Linked DNA regions of Homo sapiens. The protein of the gene in region 2 purifies or fractionates together with the protein of the main gene of each other region. This does not show direct contact. Each region holds a gene or a part of one and is shown on either strand. Other genes may lie near its edges.

Region 1 (4,255 bases), 440 kb from region 2:
CTCAGGCACTATTTTGTTCTGGACTGTAGGCAACTTTTGCACAGATTTAATTCCCTAGGTTTGCATAATTAGAGAAATTCTCAACTGTACCGACTTTGTAGTCAGAGAGCTGTGTCATGCCAGTATCCCAAATACCTACCAAACGTAGCTAGCGCTCAGCAAACCTAGTTCAAAAGCTCGGGAAGGTTGCGGGGAATGGAACCAAAATGGCAATGAGGGGAAATAACAATGAACCTGACTAAACTCTTACCATAAACAGCTCCCACCTCTTAAAACCAATAAAGACAAACTGGGGTTTCATTCTTTCCTTTCTCTTAAGGTTTAAAGACTATATCGCCTTCTAGCTTACTTCTCTGCCCTTAACATCCATGCTGACCAAGTAAGACACAAACAATCCAACTACTGTGTAGCCAGGTCAAAAACAAGCTCTGGCTAATTCACTTGGAAGACTACAATCACCATTTAATTTGGCGAGAAAAAACTGGGTTAGAAAAAAAATGACTGGTGCTTAAACAAACAACAGACCGGGGAGAATGTCTTTTAGCCAGTTACCAACCACTCAGTGAGTTGCAACACAATCTTTTCCAAAATTTTCCAAAGCCTTCCAAATTCAGTTGAGCCGGGCAAGCTGAGTTAACGGGGCTCTCTTTCAAATTCAAAAATCTGGCCCCGGCCCGAACAGTTAACCAACAAAACACAAGCTAATACACTTGAGATCACCTAAGAATACTGACCCAAGTTCGGACCACAGTCCAGTACAGTACACTACCCAGGCTAGAAGTCTAGGCTAAGGAGAGGCGTTCAAGTGATAGATAAACTCTACTCACAACGCAGAAAAGAGACAATAAGATCCACACTTAATCTAGCCTAAGAAAAGGTCTACAGTCGGCTTCCAACCCCCCCAACTCCACCCATTTTTAATGAGACAATGACAATTCTTCATGGTGAACCACAGAGCCCTGCTTCCCTAACCTTGTACCGACTCTAACAGAACACTCCCCCAGTGCAGATTAAACTTTTAGAAAACGTTCAGTATTGAGAAACAAATTAAGACAGGAAAAATTTAACATTCCGTTCTGAATTTTCAAGGCCTGCGCCTCCATTCCCTACACATCTTTCATAATCTCTAGACTGTACAATGTATAAAATGAACACTGTTAGTCACATCAGGTGTCAGCTACTCAGCGCAGACTCAGTCTCCAGATTTGCTAGTTTCATTTATCGCTGGGGTGGAGGGTGGGTGTTAAAATTTTGAAAAAAGAGAAAGACCTGGGTGGGTGTAAACCAGGGCATCCTCTATATTCTCTTCGCTCTCTGTCATTTCTGTTTCAATTACACAGCTGTCAAACAGGTTATTCCTGGAATTCAGATTTTATAATCCCCACACTGTAATTCTTCCTGCTGCTGTTGCCCAAACACACACTCCTCCCTGCTTCCCCAAAATACGTATCCATCAATAGAAAGGATGACAACCACAGTTATAAAGTATTCCCAGGTAACGCCAAACTCCCCACCTTGAGCAACTGGCAAGCACTGAGTGGAGGCTGAAACATGATGACAATTTTCACGATGGCCAAAGCAGTGGTTTAGGATCGTCAGAGGCAAGGCCCGCCTCCACTGTATTTCAATTTACACACAAACTCAGAAGGCCGGATTTGGGGAAAAAAAGAAAAAATTCAGGTTGTCTTATTTTTAAAAAATGCTTTTCCATTTTATCGAAGTAAAGTGCATGCCTAAGAGTGTAGCTTATTTCCTTATCTCAAAGCCAGGAAATGAGGTCTTTTAAGGCCAGTCTGAATATAAACTCGGTGTGCAAAAACAGAGGGACTGCAAGGCGAAAGAAACCCCTCTCCCAACTTTGGCCAAGCGGCGTGGCCTCCAGTCAGCAGCATGTTTATCACCCTCTCCTCGTCCCCCAATAAGAAGTTTCCACATGCCACGGGAAACAAAGAAGGCGCCCACACCGACCTTATAGACTTGTCCATAGGTGCCATTTCCAACCACTTCCACCAGCTCAAAAATCCCAGCAGGATCCTGGAGAGGAAGGAGGGGAGGGGTTATCATTTAAAAGAAGCCAAAAAAATGAATAAATCAAGCAAGGCAGTTGGAGAGAAAAGGCGGTGACAAAAGAGGTGGGCTTCGCCCCGCGCGGTCCCCCAGCGCCCGGGGGTCGCGCGGCGGGCTCGGGGCGTGGGGGCGGTAGAGGGTAGCGCCCGCCCCGCACCAGCCCGCACAGGAAGACAAAGGGGCCGCCGCGCCCCGCGGCTCTGCCCACGGCGGCGCCCGAGCGCCCGGCCGACCTGGGCGCGGCCCCGGCTGCCGGCTGCCGGCTGCCCGCTCCCCGCGCGCCCGCTCGCGGGCCCACTCACCCGCAGGGAGGAGAGGTCGATGTCCACCAGACTTTTTGCAGGGGAGTCGTTCGCCATTTTCCCTTTTTGCCACCAAAAAACAAATAACAATAAATGTCTCTGTCGCTCTGTGTATCTCAGCCGCAGACCAGGCCGCCGACCGCGCTCCTCGCGCGGCAGCCGAGCCGGCCCGGTACTCTCCTCGCGGGGCCGCGGGCGGCGGCGGCGGGCTCGGCTGCGCTCTCGGGCCGCTCGGGGCTCTCTGCCGGCCGGGCCGCGCGGAGGGCGGACGGAGCGTGCACGGGCGGCGGCGCTCACACCATGGCGCGGGGCCGGCCGTCAGGCCCCCGGGCGTCGCCCGCCGCCTCAGGCCCCGGCGCCCGCGCCCCGCGCCGCGCGCCTCGAGGACGGGCCCGGAGCGTGGGGCCGCGGCGGCGCCGAGTTGAGCGAGTGAGCGCGAGGCAGCGAGACAAAGATAACCCGGGAGGCGGAGGCGGAGGCGGGGAGCGAGGTGGGGAGGGAGGGGGCGGCGGCGGCGCTGGAGGAGGAGAAACGGGACACCAAAAATATATTCTGAGGAGAGAGAAAACAGCTCCCCCTTTCCTCCTCAGGCAGGAAAAACCGGCGGAAACGCACTCACACCCCGAGCCCTGCCGGGTAGGGCGCGGGCCGAGGCGCCCGCGCGGCGTGAATATTCATCAGGGGTGGGGCTCGAACAATGGCCGCGCCGGCGGGCAGCGCGGGCAGCGGTCCCGACACGACGCCCGGCGCCCAGGGTGCGGCCTCCGCGCTCGACCCCGCACGGCGCTCCCGAAAACTGCAGGAGCGGGGAGGAAGCGGGCTGGGATTTCCCCGGGGAGGAGCTGGGGTGGGGAAACGCCCCTACCTCGCGCTAACAACAAATGACACGAAACTGAGCTGGACCGACACTAAGAGGCCATGGACCCTCGCGTCTCCCAGGGCAAGGGTGTGTCCCGCCGGCCGCGTCCCGGCTCTAGAGGGACCCGAACCCGGTGTTGCCGAGCGGAGGAGGGGCCTCCCTCGATCCTCGCCCCCTCCTCGCCCCATTCGCCCCATCCCCCACTCTCCCACACCCTAGAGAGGAGACCCTTAAGTCCCTCGTTTCCGGCTTCCCTGCACGGTTTTCTTTTCCTTTCTCTGCTTTTGCAGGCTAAATGTGTGGTACGGTTGTGGTTGTAGTTGTGGGATTCGCTGAGCATCGCTGGGCTGCCCGGCCATATCCAAAACAGCTCCTGTAATTGTCTGGCGCTGCGCTCCTGGCTGCGCTCGGTAGGTGAGCACTGTGTTTGGGGCCCTTAGTACCAACCCGCATTTTGTAACCTGGAGATCACTAAGGATCAACCAACAGGTTTCTTCCGGCAACCTCGGAAGCCAGTCGGTAGTTAGGCACTTTAATGCCAGTGAATCAACAGTCATTTATATCGCATTCCTCCACCGTCCAAAAACTTTCAGTGGTTCCCTGTTACCTGACAGGTGTTCTCAAAACGTGAGTGCTTCAGGCAAAGTGCCAATTGCCTGGCCCTGCCTCCCGAGTTCTCGTTTCAGGAGGTCTGCAATGGGCCTGAGAATGTGCATGTGTAAGTTCTCAGTGTAGCTAACGTCGCTGTTACAGGGATCACTCGTTGACAACAGTGGCCTCCGGCTATTCATGATTGGATTTTCATAAACATCACCATCATCATCTACCAATTCTTATGCACATACTGTGTCTCCCCCACACAAACGCGTTGTGCCGAGTGCTTTACACACAGCACTCTATTTACAGCCTTGAAGGAATGTTATCCTCCTTTTAGGTAAGGAAAGCAAAGTACTGAAAGATAAGGAGTATGTCCAAATTCCTTAAAAGCACAGCCTGGAAGTGGAGCAGGGATTTTCACCAGGTTAGC
Region 2 (3,500 bases):
TTTGCTTACAGGTTTAACACAGAATGTGCCAGAACAATCCTGAACGAGAACAAAGTTGAAAGTCTCATACCTCCCGATTTCAAAACTTAGTACAAAGCTACAGTAATCAAAACAGTGTGGTACTGGCAGAAAGACAGACATATAGACAAATAGAATGGAATAGAAAGCCCAGAAATAAACCCTTGCATATATGGGCAAATGATTTTCAACAAGGATGCCAAGAGAACGTTGGGTTTTGGCTATTCAGCATCCCGAGACAGGTCTCACGATATTGTGCAGGCTGGAGTGCAGTGGCGCAATCACAGCTCACTGCAGCCTCGATCTCCCAGGCTCAAGTGATTCTCCCACTTAAGCCTCCCAAGTAATTGAGACCACAGGCATGCACCACCACGCCCGGCTAAGTTTTTAATTATTTGCAGAGACAAAGTTTCCTTATGTTGCCCAGGCTAGTCTTGAACTCCTGCCCTCAAACGATCCTCCCACTTTGGCCTCTCCCAAAGATTACAGGCATGAGCTACTATGCCAGCCTTTCTTTGGTTTAAAGATGGATTTTTCTTTTTTTTTTTTTTTTTGAGACAGACTCTCGCCCTGTCACCCAGGCTGAAGTGCAGTTGCACAATCTCAGCTCACTGCAACCTCCAGCTCCCAGGTTCAAGTGATTCTTGTGCCTCAGCCTCCCAATTACAGGTGTGAGCCACTGTGACTGGCCGGATTTTTCTATTTCTGCAAAAAACACTGTTGGAATTTTGACAGGAATTGCACCAAATCTGTTGATTGTTTTGGGTAGTATTGACATTTTAACAAATAGTAAGTCTTCCAATCAAAACTTAAAAAAAAACCCACTAAATTTTATCCAGCTTTCTTCTAAAACAGAAAAAGCAATCAATTCAAGTGAAAACTCCAAATGAATTTACATGCTATTAGCATCCAAAAATTTAAAGAGTTCCATTTATTTATTTATTTATTTATTTATTTATTTATTTATTTATTGAGATGGAGTCTCACTGTAGCCCAGGCTGGAGTGCAGTGGTTTGTTCTCAGCTCACTGCAACCTCCACCTCCCGGGTTCAAGCTATTCTCCTGTCTCAGCCTCCTGAGTAGCTGGGATTACAGGCGTGCTGCACCACCATGTCTGGCTAATTTTTTGTATATTTAGTAGAGACAGGGTTTCACCATGCTGGCCAGGCTAGTCTCAAACTCCTGACCTCAAATGATCTGCCCACCTCAGCCTCCCAAAGTGCTGGGATTACAGGTGTGAGCCACCGTGCCCAGCCAAGACTTCCATTTAAGATCCAGTACTAAAACTACTTTTTAAAATGGATGATACTAACCTTTTAGCAGTTACAAAAAACATCATTTTAGTAGAGTCCTCAACAAGAGAGGCCTAATATTACCACACAGAAATGCCCAAAACACTGATTCCTCCTTACCGGCCAAGGCTAACTGAAGCCCACTAATGTCCACAGACTGGCCCATGTTTCCAACGTCCATCAGTGCAATCTGGCGAGGCGTCTTTTTGAAGAGTTCCCGTGGGGGTGCCAGCATCAGCTGGGAAAGAAAAAACTTTTCTGGTGGAGTTATAGGAGGTAAAAATCCTGCAAACAAAAATGTATAACGATTTCTCCAATGGTTACTTTTAAAAATCAACTTGAATCTGGTAAAATCAGTACTTGCTACTTGCCACTTCAAGCCACATAGTTTTAAGAACTAAATTATGATTAAGTTTCAGTCAACCAAATATATACATTTACAAACTATGTAATATGTCATTTGAAATTCTATGATCTGTGGCCCTACAAATGAAACTTAAGGTTTTTGTACTTGTTAACTGTAAGAGTTAAAGAAAGAGGAAAGAAACACAAAACGCAGCCTGGCAGTCAAAGACAGGTTTTCTTTAGTTAAAACATCGGCCAGGAGTGCTTCTCAGGTTCTAACTAAAGAAAATCTGTCTTTGACTGCCAAGCTGCGTTTTGTGGCTTTTTTTTTTTTTTTGAGATGAAGTCTCACTCTTGTCTCCCAGGCTGCAGTGTGATGGCATGATCTTGGCTCACTGCAACCTCCACCTCCCGGGTTCAAGAGATTCTCCTGCCTCAGCCTCCCAAGTAGCTGGGATTACAGGCACCTGCCACCATGCCCAGCTAATGTTTGTATTTTTAGTCGAGTCGGGGTTTCACCATGTTGGCCAGGCTGGTCTTGAACTCCTGACCTCAGGTGATCCACTCGCCTCAGCCTCCCAAAGTGCTGGGATTACAGGCATGAGTCACCGTGCCCCGCCTGGTGTTTCTTTCCTCTTTAACTCTCACATTAGTAACTTCATTTTCTTTTCTTTTTTTTTTTGAGATGGAATCTCGCTCTGTCGCCCAGGCTGGAGTGCAGTGGTGCAATCTCGGCTCACTGCAAGCTCTGCCTCCTGGGTTCACGCCATTCTCCTGCCTCTGGCTCCCGAGTAGCTGGGACTACAGGCGCCCGCCACCACGCCCAGGTAATTTTTTGTACTTTTTAGTAAAGACAGGGTTTCACCGTGTTAGCCAGGATGGTCTTGATCTCCTGACCTCGAGATCCACCCACCTCGGCCTCCCAAAGTGCTGGGATTACAGGCGTGAGCCACCACGCCTGGCCCAATAACTGCATTTTCTAAAGTGCCTCAATTCCTGCAAAGGCTAAAGCTTATATATGCAAACAAAAACAGACAACACTATAGTGCTCGGAAATGCTTTTCTTTCTTCTCTGTTTCCACTGTGTAGAAGTTGAATAAATAGAAGAGCAACCAGCAGCTATCCAAATACACTACCTGATTCAACACACAATGCAGCTACAAATTCCCACAAGGCTGAATGTTCCTTCCCTTTTGTCCCATGTTTAATTGCTCATGAAGCCTCATCTCTCCCACTGCAGAAATGTCACCAGGCTGCATTCCCTCAGATGTAGTCCCCACGCCTCTCTTGCTGGGACTACTCCTGCCCCCTCTACTGACTTCCCCAGCTCCCAGTTTTGACCCCTGCTCACCCACCACCCATAGTCCATACTTCCTCTTACCATTTAGTTATATCTCTAGAGTACAAATCTGATCACATTACTTAACCTGTGTACACAGAATTAAACCCAGATTTCTACACCATTACAAGACCCTTCAAAATCTGGTCCCACCACACCTTCCTAATCTCACTTCTTGACCTTCTCTCCCATCCATGTACCCTACACCCCGGTTGCACAAAATCCCTCAACTTCTACACTATTTTTTTTTTTTTTGAGGCAGTCTCACTCTGTTGCTCAGGCTGGAGTGCAGTGGCGCGATCTCAGCTCACTACAGCCTCCGCCTCCCAGGTTCAAGCAATTCTCCTGCCTCAGACTCCTGAGTAGCTGGGATTACAGGAGTGCACCATCATGCCGGGCTAATTTTTGTATTTTTTGGTAGAGATGGGGTTTCGTCATGTTGGCCAGGCTGGCTTCCAACTCCTGGCCTCAAGTGATCTGCCTGCCTTGGCCTCCCAAAGTGCTGG

Evidence for each region.
Region 1: the proteins of CNOT11 (region 2) and MAP4K4 purify together in Homo sapiens (affinity purification with mass spectrometry; one large-scale study listed by BioGRID and IntAct). This does not show direct contact.

Annotation. Positions count from the first base shown.
Region 1 is NC_000002.12:101,696,252-101,700,506, reverse strand, and holds the start of MAP4K4 (mitogen-activated protein kinase kinase kinase kinase 4), read right to left. Parts: upstream 2,801-4,255; 5' UTR 2,427-2,800; coding exon 2,370-2,426; intron 2,243-2,369; exon of another isoform or gene 2,065-2,242; coding exon of another isoform or gene 2,035-2,064; coding exon 1,969-2,034; intron 1-1,968.
Region 2 is NC_000002.12:101,255,886-101,259,385, reverse strand, and holds part of CNOT11 (CCR4-NOT transcription complex subunit 11), read right to left. Parts: intron 1,596-3,500; coding exon 1,431-1,595; intron 572-1,430; exon of another isoform or gene 1-571. UniProt on the Homo sapiens protein: Component of the CCR4-NOT complex which is one of the major cellular mRNA deadenylases and is linked to various cellular processes including bulk mRNA degradation, miRNA-mediated repression, translational repression during translational initiation and general transcription regulation.